4 separate regions of the Homo sapiens genome follow, and regions 2, 3 and 4 are each reported to be linked to region 1. The links are microRNA targets in miRTarBase. Many come from high-throughput screens and were not tested one by one. Region 1 holds a microRNA gene; each other region holds the end of a gene's coding sequence.
Evidence for each region. The annotated mature microRNA hsa-miR-5011-5p reads UAUAUAUACAGCCAUGCACUC and lies in region 1 at 975-995, opposite strand. An mRNA with a match to its seed (bases 2 to 7 or 8) in the 3' UTR can be bound and repressed. Matches are read on the target gene's strand: a 7mer-m8 pairs with bases 2 to 8, a 7mer-A1 pairs with bases 2 to 7 and ends in A, and an 8mer does both.

Region 1 (3,249 bases):
TTCATTGTAGTGTTAGTAGCAATAAAGTATAGAAACGACCTAATTGCTCATTGAATGGTGACTGATAGTGTTACATATACAGCCATGCACTGTGTATTGCATCAGTCAACAAAAAACCACATATATAAATGTGGTCCAATAAGATTACGATACTGTGTTTTTAGTGTAATTTTTCTTTGTTTTGGTATGTTTAGATGTACGGATGCTATTGTGTTACAATTGCCTATAGCATTCAGTATAATAATAAGCTATACAGAGTTGTAGCCTAGGAGATACAGTCTATGTCATATTGTCTAAGTGTGTAGTACGTTACACTGCTGTGGGACAGGCAAGGCCCCAAACTGGGGCTTAGCCAGGGAGGATTTCTTGCTTAACCCCGGAAAAAATTCAAGGATGAGCTAGGAGTCTTAGCAATCGTTTATTGAATGGTACTGCTCCTTGCAGAGCAGGGCTAAATCATAGGCAGTGCAATCAGAGTCAGCAACATATGGTCTCTTGGCAACGGTATTTATACTCAGCGAGACCCACATTCAATTGCATGCAAATTGAGGGGTGAGCCAATGCAAATTGAGGGGCAGGTTGTTTAGAACTTTCTAAGGCAGGTCAAATGCATGCAAATTGAGGGGTGAGCCAATGCAAATTGAGGGGCAGGTTGTTTAGAACTTTCTAAGGCAGGGGCAGTAACTTTTAGGTTGTTGCCATGGAAAGAGGTGGTAACTTCTGGGTTGTGTTGCCAGGCTGCTCATATTGCTCATTAGCATAAGACACTACCACCAGCACCATGACAATTAAATTGCAATGAGTAGTTAGAGATTGCTTTTGTTGACATCTGCCACTTCCTATCAGTTTCTTCACTTCATGCTCTCTGGCCAGATCCTGTTTTGGTTAGCAGGGTTGTGACCAAAAAAAAGTCCTGCTGAAAGATGAATGGATAGTGTTATATATACAGCCATGCACTGTGTACCCAAACTACAGAGTGCATGGCTGTATATATAACAGCATCCACTCAATACCATCTAGGTTTGGATAAGGACACTCCATGATGTTCAAACAATGATAAAATTGCCTTAAGGTACATTTCCCTGTTAAGCAATGCATGACTGTGTGTGTGTATATATGTATATGACCATGAAATATTATTCAGCCTTAAAATAGAAGGGGATTCTGCCATATGAGGCAACATGAAAGAAATAAGTTCTATTGTTGGGGGTGAATAGCCATGAGAGTGGAGAAGGCCATCAGTTAATCCATGGTTTGTGGCATTGGCCAAGCATGACAAGCAGTGAAACCATATTCAAATATGGAATCAACTTTTCTGACGATGACAACAAACAACTGTTGGCTTTACTATACAAGTCAGAGGCAATTGTAAGGCTCTTTGTTGTTTAATGCCCCACAGGTAAAACTTTTCTGTCCAGGGAATATTCTAGAGCAATACTGTGCAAGAGACCATTGTGTGATAACACGTGTTCTACCCTTGCATAGTCCAATATAGTAGCCTGTAGCCACATGTGCCTTTGAGTATTTCAAATACAGCTAACACAATGGAGGGACTGACTTTTTAATTATTTTAATGTTTAGTTAATTAAACATTAAAATTAACTTTAAATAGCCAAGTGTAGCTCCAAGAAACATCTGGAGCTACCAGGAACTGGAAGAGATAAGAAAGAATTGTCTCCTAGAATCCTGGATTAAATGCAATCCTGCCGACACCCGAGTTTGAACTGGCTTCTAGAACTGGGGGAGAATACATTTCTGTTCTTTTAGCCATTTGTTTTATGCTAATCTGTTATGGCAGCCTGAGGAAACTAAAACAGATGGCTTCGGGGAGAAATTTGAAACAGAAGCAAGAAGTAAAAACAGTAAGAAACAAACAAGTATGTATTCATCACAGAGGTACAGAAATTAACCATCAAATATCCCAGGCCCTAGGGGAGGAAGTGCCACGGTGGCAGCAGCGCTATCTCATCAGACTGTTCCTGTGGGGGGATTTTACTGCCATTCTGGAACCTGGTTTCCATGGGGCTGCCCTGTTCTGAGCCTGTTTCTTTAGCCTTCCAATAATTATATGATTTATCCAATATAATCTATTACCTGGTTTAGGTCAATTGGAATGGATTTCAGTCATCTACAACCAAGAACACTGACAGGTATACTAACACCTGTCAGATAGTATTGTGAATTGTGGGGAAAGTGTTCCTAAACATGACAAAACACAAGAAAGCATTAAAAAATGGTGACAGATATGAGTATTTATGAGTTAGTTAATAAACATATATGACAATTTATATGGAAAACAAAGTATGTGATGCATGATGGATTAGGAAAACATACAATATATGTAACGAAATGATATACAATGTCAATATTTATTTTTAAGAAGCAATACTAAATTACAAAATAAAATATATACAATTCTATAGGAATAGAATGCAAATTACCAATACATACATGAAAATTAGAAAACTTTTGCAATTAGAAAAATATAAATCAAAACAATAGTGTTATACTACTTTTTTCTGAAATTAAATTGCAAAATTAATATATCCAAAGATACTCAACATGATCCATATTAGACATGGATGTGTGAAGAAGGCACTCCAATCTAGGTTTTTAAGGATATAAATTTGTAAAGCCGTGTCTCAAGAATGTGTGACAATAATTCATGAGTGGCAATTTAGTATACGTTAAGCTTTGATCCAGGTAATTTAATTAAGATCTATCTACAAAGATAAACACACTTGCACACAAGTTTCTAAGGGTCAGATGGCTTACTGTACAATTTTCAGGATGTTATTGTATCATTGGTCACATCTTAATTTCTTAATTGTCCATGCCCATGGTTTTATCAGAGAAAATGAGCTAAGAACCCCAGAGACAATGGAGAGTTTGCAATGTAGTTTTTCTTTAATTTTTCATTTTAAGTTCAAGACGTCCGAAGGTGTATCTACTGGCTAGAAAAAATTGATATGTTTCCAATTACATTTCTATACATACATGGATGTGTTTGTGTGTATAGCTTTTTTGTCACAAAACCTGAGGACATACAGATAATAAATGCCTGAGAAGTATGTTGCTCTTCTTAAAATAAAACACATGATGAGTTTCCCTTTTGTTTGAGGAAAGCAGAACAGTGCTTTGCTTCGCATTGAGAATTTATGATTGCCATAAGAAAGCAGTGGTGAGCAGATAAAAGCTGTCACAAAAGAAATTTAAATTGAGCTGAAATTTTTTTTTTTGGCAACAGCT
Region 2 (3,000 bases), not on the chromosome of region 1:
TATAGTCATACATACCCCACACCCCCTCCAGTCCCTATCCCTGGCAACCATTAATCTGTTCTTCATTTCAATAATTTTGTCACCTCAAGAATGTTATATAAATGCGATCATACAGTATGTGACCATTTGAGACTGGTTTTTTTTTTGTTCACCATAATACCCCTGAGGTACAACCAAGTTCTTGTATCAACAGTTAGTTCCTTTTCATTCCAGAGCAGTATTCCAAGTTATGGATGGTTTGTTTAACCATGTACCTGTTGTAGGACATCTGGGTTGTTTCCAGTTTGGGGCTATTACAAATAAAGCTCCTATGAATATTTGAGTACAAGTACAATATAGGTTTTCATTTCTCTGGAATGAATGTCCAGGAGCACAACTGCTGGGTCTTATGTTTAACTTGATTAAAAAATTATGTTTAACTTGATAAGAAATTCATAAACTCTTTCCCAGAGTGGCTGTACCATTTTACATTCCTGTCAGCAATGTATAAAATATCCAGTTTGTATCCTCATCAGTATTTGGTATTTTCACTATTTTTTCTTTAGCCATTGAGATAAGTAAGTCATAGCCTCGCTGTGGTTTCAATTTGCATTCCCTGATGACTTATGGAGTTTAACAGCTTTTCATATGCTTACTTGCCATCTATAGATCCTCTTCAGTGAAACATCTATTCATGTCTTTTGCCCATTTTCTAATTGGACTGTTTGTTTTTATTGTTGAGTTTTGTGGCCTTTTTTTTTTTTTGAGATGAGGCCTCACTCTGTTACACAGGTTGGAGTGTGGTGGTGTGATCACAGCTCACCGCAGCCTCAAACTCCTGGGCTCAAGTGATCCTCCTGCCTCCCTAGTAGCTGGGACTACTGGTGTGTGTCATGGTGCCCAGTTAATTTTTTAAAAAAACTTTTTGTAGAGACAAGAGTCTCACTATGTTGCCCAGGCTGGTCTGGAACGCCTAACCTCAAGCACTCCTCCCATCTTGGCCTCCCAAAGTGGTGAGATTACAAGCATGAGCTACCATGCCTGACTTCAGTTGAGTTTTTAGTACACTTTATATATTCCAAATTGATCAGATATATGGTTTGCAAATTCATCTCAATCTGTAGCTTATCTTTTCCTCTTCTTAAATCACAAGTTTTTAAATTTTGAAGAAGTCCAATATATCAGATTTTGTCTTTTATGGATGTGCTTTCGGGGCAAAGTCCAAGAACTTGTCACCTAGCCCAAGATCCTGAAGATTTTTCTCCTGTGGCTTTTTTCAAAGTTATCTAGTTTTATGTATCACATTTAAGTCCGTTATACATTTTGAGTTAAATTTTATATAAGATGTGAGGTTTAAGTAGAGGTTCTTTTTTCTCCTCGCCATGGGTGTCTAATTGCTCTAGCATAATTTGTCAGAAAGGCTATTCTTCCTCCATTGAATTGCTTTTTCACTTTTTCAAAATCAGCTGAGCATATTTATATGGGTTTATTTCTGGGTTCTCTCATCTGTTCCATTGACGTATGTGTCTGTTCCTCTGCCAATACCATCTATCTTGATTACTATAGCTTTATAGTAAGTCTTGAAGTCAGGTAAAATGAGTCCTCCAAGTTTTTCTTCTTTGAAATTGATTTAGCTTAAGTAACTTTACACTGGATATTTTCATCTTTCCTATAGGGAAAGAAAAAGAATAGAGAAGAACAGTGGCTGTGGGAAATTAGGGACAATATAGTATATACATTCCATATGCTCAAGGCTAGTGGTTTTCAAATCAGCTAAGTAGTTCATGCAGATTTTATCCCCAGAGATAGAGTATGACCTTCAAGTGATTCTGATGCAGGTGGTTCTGGACAACACTTTGAAATGTGAAAAATGAGAGGGAGAAACAAAAACCAAAAACAGCCTTTATCACTTAACTTCTAGTATCCAACAAGCATACTTTGTTTCCAGTATGCAACAAGCACACAGAAAAGTATGTCTTTTCTGCAGACACATTTATCATTTGTGCTTTTACATGATAAGAGTAATGCAACCAAACTTTTTAAAGCATGATTTTTATTATATCCTCAATCCTAAATGTTTCTGGAGAAACACATTTTACTATAATGGAAACTCCTAGGCAGATAGGATCTGCTCAATAGGAGTTTACTTCAGAGTCAAATATGCTAGAACTCATGTTGGGCTAAAAAGGGCACCCTCAGAGATTCAACGTTTGATAGGTATCTCAGAACATATATTTTAGAAATCAAGAAGGAAGACACTGCCCTCTCAGTGAGGGCATAGAGGTGGGGTACTTCCTTCCACTCACACTAGATTTATTATTTGCTTGTCCAACATAAGCATCATACCTACAAAATTGAAACATAAAATATTCTAGTGAGTGAATGTATTTGAAAATGAAAATAAAGACTTCCAAGTTAAAAGAAAGGGAAATATAAATGTTTAAAATATACCCCCCAGACATTTTATTCTAAGATATTCCTTGCCATTGTACCACTCATAGCCTTTTTAAAAATAACTTTCATATTCTACTTAAATCATCTTGCATAAGCTCCTTATTGGTCAGTTATAGGTAGGAGGGTTCAGTGAACTCTAATTAAACTGTCAGGAAGACATCCTGTGCTGATTGCATGTGAAAAATAACTACTCTATTGTCTGCCTGCATGTGAGCTGTGTGCATTTTCAGACTGTGTTTAGTACACAAATTGAAAAAGAAGTTTTTTACCCCATTTTGTCTCCTGATTTATTCTAGAGAAGAAAGTTCTTGCATAAGCTCTTCCTTTTCTTGTTGTAATTCCTGCAAATGCTGTTGGTTTTGCTCCAGTCTGTCCTCCAACCACTGTAGGAGAGGCCCGCTGACTGCCGACATCTGACTGCACAGATTCTTGGTAAACACTTCAATAGGAAAAATAAAGATGAGAATAATTGTGGAAAAGCACCATCCACTAGCATGTTTCCACTCTATCACCAACAGACCCCCAACCATGAGCACAGAAAGAAGGGGTTGGAGAAGGAAGTAGAAA
Region 3 (3,221 bases), not on the chromosome of region 1:
GTATTAATTGCACTTAACACAATGAACCTTTAGTTTCCAACCAGTTTTCATTCTCTGCAGACCCGGGCTTTCTTTTTATAAAAACTGCTTTCAAAGGGCATAGAGACACCACACATGGTCCACAGTAAATTCAAATAGAGAGGTGCAATAGTTGCAGTGGTAAACACACAAAAAAATACATTTTTTTGGACTAAAAATCTGGTCACGGATAAAAGCATGTGCCTTTTCATTCTTCTCTGGGATGTTACAACAGCAACACGCTCTAAAACAATTAAGTTACATGCATAATGCTAAAAGAATGTGAGCAATCCTATAACCAGCTTTAAGCCATCTGCTTGATTTCTTTTTTTTTTTTTTTTGTAAGGAACATATATAGGAAAAGAGAATTCCCCTTTTGTTCCATTACATATAGAAACCTTTTGAAGCTTCCAAATAGCTTGGTTTTGGTAAAATTCACCACTCTTTTATTACTTTGACATGTAGTCATCCTAAACTATCCGTCATGGTTTCTCCAAAAATCTCCACATGAATTATCTGAAGGACAATTGAAACCACTTACCAATATACAAGTAACGTTTTATTTTATATTCTATCTTCCATTTGGCATAAGCCTTTCGATGTTTGTTTTTTAAACCAGTGAAATATACAAATCACGCAAGACAGAAATATGTACATTAAAAGTACAGAATAAAGGCTAGAAGATATACATAATATCTGAATGACATGTAGAATATTTTACATTAAATAGTTTCTTTTAAAAGCTAGGATTGTTAAACTCAACTCTCTTCATAAACATGAGTCACTAAAAAGGAACAATCTGATTTAGCAAATAAAAAAAGTACTTCATGGTTTTTGTATAATAAAAACCAAAAAAGTGACATTTTAAACTAATTAGTGCTTTTTGCTTTCAAGATCTTTTGCTCACAATTCACTGCAACTGAGGGGATGTGAATATCATTATGCAATAAATTAAGAGCCACAGTTGGCTGAGGTGATATGAAAGCCAACCTGCCTAAGGGGGGTATGAAAGATGTGTATCTTTCCAAACTTTTAAAACAACGTAAGTCTGAGATAAGAACATATTTGATGGCACTGTTTGGAAAGAGGTGTCCTTATTAAAAAAAAAAAAAAAAAAGCTATCTATGTAGTGGGCTGAATATTCCTTAGGGACTCAATTAATAAGTACTGTCATTTCTAATAGGCATGGGTTTCCATTCTGCAGAATGAACTAAGAAAAGAGAAACATTGCTGATGCTTCTGAGTTTTGAATATCTCTTAACGTCCATGTCTATAACGAACAAGTAATGCCCTCTCCACAAAGTGAACAGAAATGGAGGTTGGAGACAAAGGGGTGAGGCAGAAAAGAAAAAAGATATCTTCAACCCAACACGCATTTCAGTGAGTCAGAACTCAAGCTTCCTCAGAAACAAGGTTGCTTCGTCGTGCTCAAGGTATGATCACAGCAGGGCCACAGCCCAAGCTCAAGACTCAAAAAACTTTTGGAATAATCCCAACTGGACTGCAGTGAAGGACAACAATGCTCTAGACAGAGAAATAACCCCAGAGTAAACTGTAAATCTAAATCACTGGCTGCAATGAGATATATTTATATTTATATTTATATATATGTATATATATATATATGTTATGTACAAAAGACTTTGAGATATCAGGCACCATTAAACCACATTTCCCCCCTTATAAATGCAACTGTTCAAGTACACTGGGAACAGTTTTAAGGTACACCTGCAGTACAATAGGAGAAGCATGAGTGGATAATCTAAACACAGGATCATAACAGTGATACGCTGCAACACCTCTGTGAATTCCATTAGCCAAGTTCTGTCATTAAAACATAGAAAACTACTGCTCCTCAAAATAAAAGTTTTAGGAAACAAAAATCCCTAAGTAGTGAACTGTTTTCCAAGCAGAGCTCCTAATGTTTCATTTCCTGTCCTACAACCAAAGGGGACCCAGTGGAGCTGCCGTTTGGAAACGTGGCCAGCATCACATCACAACACGGAGGAATCAGAGAGGGCTCAGTGTGAAGAGGAAGGTGGATTTCACTGTTTTTCCTCAAATAGGTTGTCTGCTCTGGTGCAGTGCTGAATGGCACGCAATTACCTTGTTGCTTGGGCTGAGAACCTGTGAATGGGATTCATGTATTATTTTTACTATTATAATTTACTAACCAAGTATCCCTAAGAAAATAACAGGATATTTTCATTTATGTTCAAGCCAACCTCCCCAAACAAAAAAATCTAGTGTCCAGAATCATTTGGGGATCTTTTTACAATCTGGAATCCTAATTCTTATAACAGCTTCAAATCAACATCTTGACATAAGAGTTTTAAATTTTTTAATTTCTGGGGACTTTCCTCCCTGCTGCCCAAATTTCATGAGCTATTAGAATATGACGGTCTGTCTGCAAATGGAATATTTGAGGAGAATGAGACATGTGATATACCTTTTTTCCTTGAGAATATGACATTCTTGTCCTTCCATTGTAAATTATCATTTTGAAAATGCAGAAAGCAAGCTAGCAGCCCTGCTGGGGAAGGGAGGTTTGTTTTGTTTTGTTTTGTTTTCCCAAGACCTTTTATCTTGCACCAGAGAATTTACAACTCATTTTGGTCATAGAAGCTGAATTGTGAATAGATTTCTACCACCCTCTTTCAACTGGAACCTACCCATCCCATATGATGGCATATTTGAGAAAAAGAAAATGTATTTCTTTACCTTCTGGATGTGTACCATGTCCACACAGCTAAGTTAGGGTATGTGTTATTTCCCCTTCATTCTATACTATCAAAAGAAGTCTTGTATTACCTTTTCAAAGATCCACAAAATAAATATTTTTCTTGGTTCCCACCCCCATTATTGCCAAATAATAATTATAATATTAATAATAAACCACAGAGTTCTTAGATGGTAACAGGAAAAAAAATGGTTCCGGTTGCAATTCTTGGGGAAAAATAAAAAATATTTCTAAAAACCAAAAACCAGAATCACTGTACTTTCTATAAATAAGCGGGTCCTGGGAGCGGGGCTGAGTGCTGGGTGGCACCCACTACTTGCACACAAACTGGTCCACGATCTCCGTGCACTTCTTGCACTTGACGTAGCAGCACCAGTGGAACTTGCAGTGGCAGCGCTCCGTCTGCACGGTCTTGAACTGGTCGTAGCCACGGCCGCAGCACATGAGCTCGCAGCCATCCATG
Region 4 (3,249 bases), not on the chromosome of region 1:
AAATCAGTATTTATTATTTTTCCTTATTAACTTACCAATTCCTTTTTTCAAAAGAAAAATGTTTAACACATTTTCATTATTTTTTTTTTTTGCAATTGGTTGAAAAAATGTAAAGTGAGGAAATAGAAATAAGTTTATCAAAAACTCTAAGAGTTTGGCTGTAAGAGTAGAGAAATGGGTGTATTCCTAGAGGGAAACAATAGGTTTAGTGTTTTTTTTTTCTAAGAAGCAGTATTGCAACCTATTTGTTGATGACACTCATTTAGGGCAGAGGGAAGAAATTCATGGTACAGGAGAGAAAGAGTTTAATCATGGGAGCAAGGTCCTTGAGTGGGCAAGAGTGTATGGCAACAACTGCACAGAGGGAATTGTTGTGAGGCAGATTGCTCATCCTCTGTAACAGCAGGCAGAAGGCATTAACTATGGAAATGTGTATTTGGTCATTATTGATGGCCCACTTGAGATATGTGGTTATAGACCAAGAATGAGTCCAGTCAGTGGAGCTGTTTTTCTTTGGTAACATTTTATAGCTTGACTACACTCAAGCTGTACGGAATGGGCAGTGGAAAAGATTTGAGCTTAACCCTGGTTGGATGTCTGTCAGGTAAGTAAAAGGGCACATGCATGAAATTCTGCATCTTTCATAGGGTTCACAAACACATTATGGTATATGAATTAATGCAACAGAGGATTCAAGAACACTGTAATACAGGGCAGCATGGAGCAGGGAAAGAGATTTTTTTTTAATGCTTTTCAGAATTTGATACGTATACCTAACTTGAACACAATAGTTGAAGCTTTGCCAGACAGGTCGGTAGGGGCTTTCTCATCTCCTTGTACTAGTAATTTCTTCTTGGCCTTTAGAGATGGAACAGCATCCACCTCTGATTTTTCTTGTTAGAAGGCATATCAGAATCTCTCAGGAATGCAAGTGTAGTGTTCTTTTTTCTTTATTTAAGTTTACGAAATACATGCTTATAGAAAATTAAAACATTATAGAAATATGTAAAGCCACCCATGAAAGTTCTTCCATAATTCTGCTTCCTAACAAAGCCACTGTTAGTAATGTGGTGTTACTTATATTTTAGAGCATCAAGTTGTCCACAAAAATGCTTGCACAACTTTTTTTTTTACCCAAGTTTAGAAATCTTGCCCTAATAATCCAGACATTCCTCACTCTCTTAACGAATACTTAGAAACAAATTGCATAAAGGTACCATCTATTAAACCAGTCCCTTACTGACAGGGCATTTGGGCTAGTTTTAAGTATTAAAGAACAAAGGTGCAATGACTTTGCTTGTGTACACTTGTCAGATCATTCCCATTAGGCAGTTTCCTAGGAATGAACTTAGTAGGCCAAAAGGTTCAAAGTTTCAATAAATCCCAGAAAACTACATTCCTAAAGGCTGTGACAATTATACTCCCACCTATGGCATACAAGATGGGTAATGTAATTGGAAGTGCTTGTTCAAAATCATGGTGCAATTTTTTAATTTGGAAAATTTAAAAAATTGACTGTTCTTATAACTGTGTTTTCTAATTATAGAAGGTGAAGTCTGACAAATCTTGATTAATGGGGAATCAGGATCCCAGGGCAGGATTTATAAAACTTGTATTTACCAAAAAGAGGCATCAGTATTAGAAACTTTAAAACTTCTCTTTAAAATCTCCGCAAGATTGCAGCCCTTGCTACAGCTTTAAATAGCTGCACTGGTATCTCCAGTTATTTTCCCCAAGTTTCAATACCAGTATTGGTATCCTACTAGTTGAGGAATAAAATCCATACTTATATGAGCTTTCCCCAGAACAAGCCAGCTTTAGTCCCATTATTCGACAGTAGCAGAACATTCTTTGTCCCAGAACACACCGCACACTTTCTTGTGCCTGGTTTCATCACTTTATGCCTCATCTCTTTTCCTTCTTTGTCTTCCTTCACTTCAAGGTAATCTCCAATGCCACTTACTCTATGAAGTCTTCCACAATCCTTCCTGAGAAAAATAAATGGTCTTATCCCTTCTGTTCCCCCAGCATTTCACCTGCACCTCTGTTACAGAATTTCTATACTAAGCTACCAAACTGGAAGTCTTAGAGGATAGACACATCTTACTTGTCTATTTCCTGAACAGTATCTAGTGCAGAACTTTGTAGAACATACACTCAAAAACTGTTTTTGGAATAAACATACATAAATTAAGACTTCAAATCTTTTAATCTCAAATTATTAGTCACAGATGTTATTTTTTAAAGGACTAAAAAAAAACTACTGCTCCTTCAAATGTCCTAATTATCGGTTTCATACATTTTTTTTAAAAAAGGGGGTTTTCTAATAAGACTGTCAAAATATTACATCTAGAATAGTTATGTTCAATAAACCTGCATTTACTTGATATCTGCATCTTCCTAGTATCACAAATTGTTTTAGAAATAAAAACACAGGGGTAGGGGACAGGGGACAGTTTATTGTAAAATATGAAGCAGCAATGATTGAAGCAAGTGAATTTCTCCTTTATATTCCCAGCCAGAGCACAAAATGACTGGATATCCTCATGAACGCCAAGCTTTTTTTTTTTTAATTAAAAAGAAAAAAAAAGAGAGAGAAAAAATTCCACATTCATTAAAATCTCTTTCTCTTGATAATTTCTGGTTTCCAGCTGACTGGATGAGTTTCTTCTGTCTAAAAATAGAAAAGTGAGTTAAAATAAAGTATTATTAGTTTGCTTCATGTCTAATAGGCTTCCTTTCTAACAAAAATAAGGTATCTAACATTATTCATTGGCTTTATACACTTAGTTCTTTGACAGTTTTAGGAAGAGTTGATAAACTTCTGGCATTATCCAAGTCTAATAACAGATGGATGGATTCATTATGTTTAGTTTGTAGTTTTCCATCTAAAATAACATTTCTACTTGGATATTCTACTAACACCAAAGCTTATGATTCTCGAATTAATTTACATAGCAATCTATTTATTTGCTGTTATTCTTGGTGCAACATTTCCCAGCAACTATAACAAAGGAAGTTGGGATAAAATTAAAGCCATCCATGGATTCACTGGCATCAGTGAAACAATATAGAAATATATAAATGGACACTATTCAAGAAGACAGATATCTTAAATACTATAAAGATTATTTTTCCTTCTGATAATTAAATGAGAATATGCTGCCAAATTGGTATAGCTGTTTTACTTAACGAATGTGAAACACAGAACTTACGGCTGTGTCATCCTCTCTGTATACTTTAATGGTT

Region 2: miRTarBase lists BRCC3 as a target of hsa-miR-5011-5p. Seed matches in the 3' UTR shown: 7mer-A1 at 1,050-1,056.
Region 3: miRTarBase lists WNT5A as a target of hsa-miR-5011-5p. Seed matches in the 3' UTR shown: 7mer-A1 at 1,638-1,644, 8mer at 1,636-1,643, 8mer at 1,634-1,641, 8mer at 1,632-1,639, 8mer at 1,630-1,637, 7mer-A1 at 1,622-1,628 and 2 more.
Region 4: miRTarBase lists PLRG1 as a target of hsa-miR-5011-5p. The part of its 3' UTR that is shown has no 7-base or 8-base seed match.

What each region holds. Positions count from the first base shown.
Region 1 is chr18:67,079,353-67,082,601 of GRCh38, reverse strand. MIR5011 (microRNA 5011) reads right to left here and starts at 1,018; the gene lies at 916-1,018.
Region 2 is chrX:155,119,871-155,122,870 of GRCh38, reverse strand. BRCC3 (BRCA1/BRCA2-containing complex subunit 3) reads right to left here. Exons shown (of 11, transcript NM_001018055.3): 10 at 2,703-2,872; 11 at 1-1,648. The coding sequence ends at 2,721. Among named protein-coding and RNA genes, the nearest start is that of BRCC3, 50 kb to the right of the region's middle.
Region 3 is chr3:55,467,022-55,470,242 of GRCh38, forward strand. WNT5A (Wnt family member 5A) reads right to left here. Exons shown (of 5, transcript NM_003392.7): 5 at 1-3,221. The coding sequence ends at 3,071. Among named protein-coding and RNA genes, the nearest start is that of WNT5A, 19 kb to the right of the region's middle.
Region 4 is chr4:154,534,071-154,537,319 of GRCh38, forward strand. PLRG1 (pleiotropic regulator 1) reads right to left here. Exons shown (of 15, transcript NM_002669.4): 14 at 3,216-3,249; 15 at 935-2,674. The coding sequence ends at 2,615. Among named protein-coding and RNA genes, the nearest start is that of PLRG1, 15 kb to the right of the region's middle.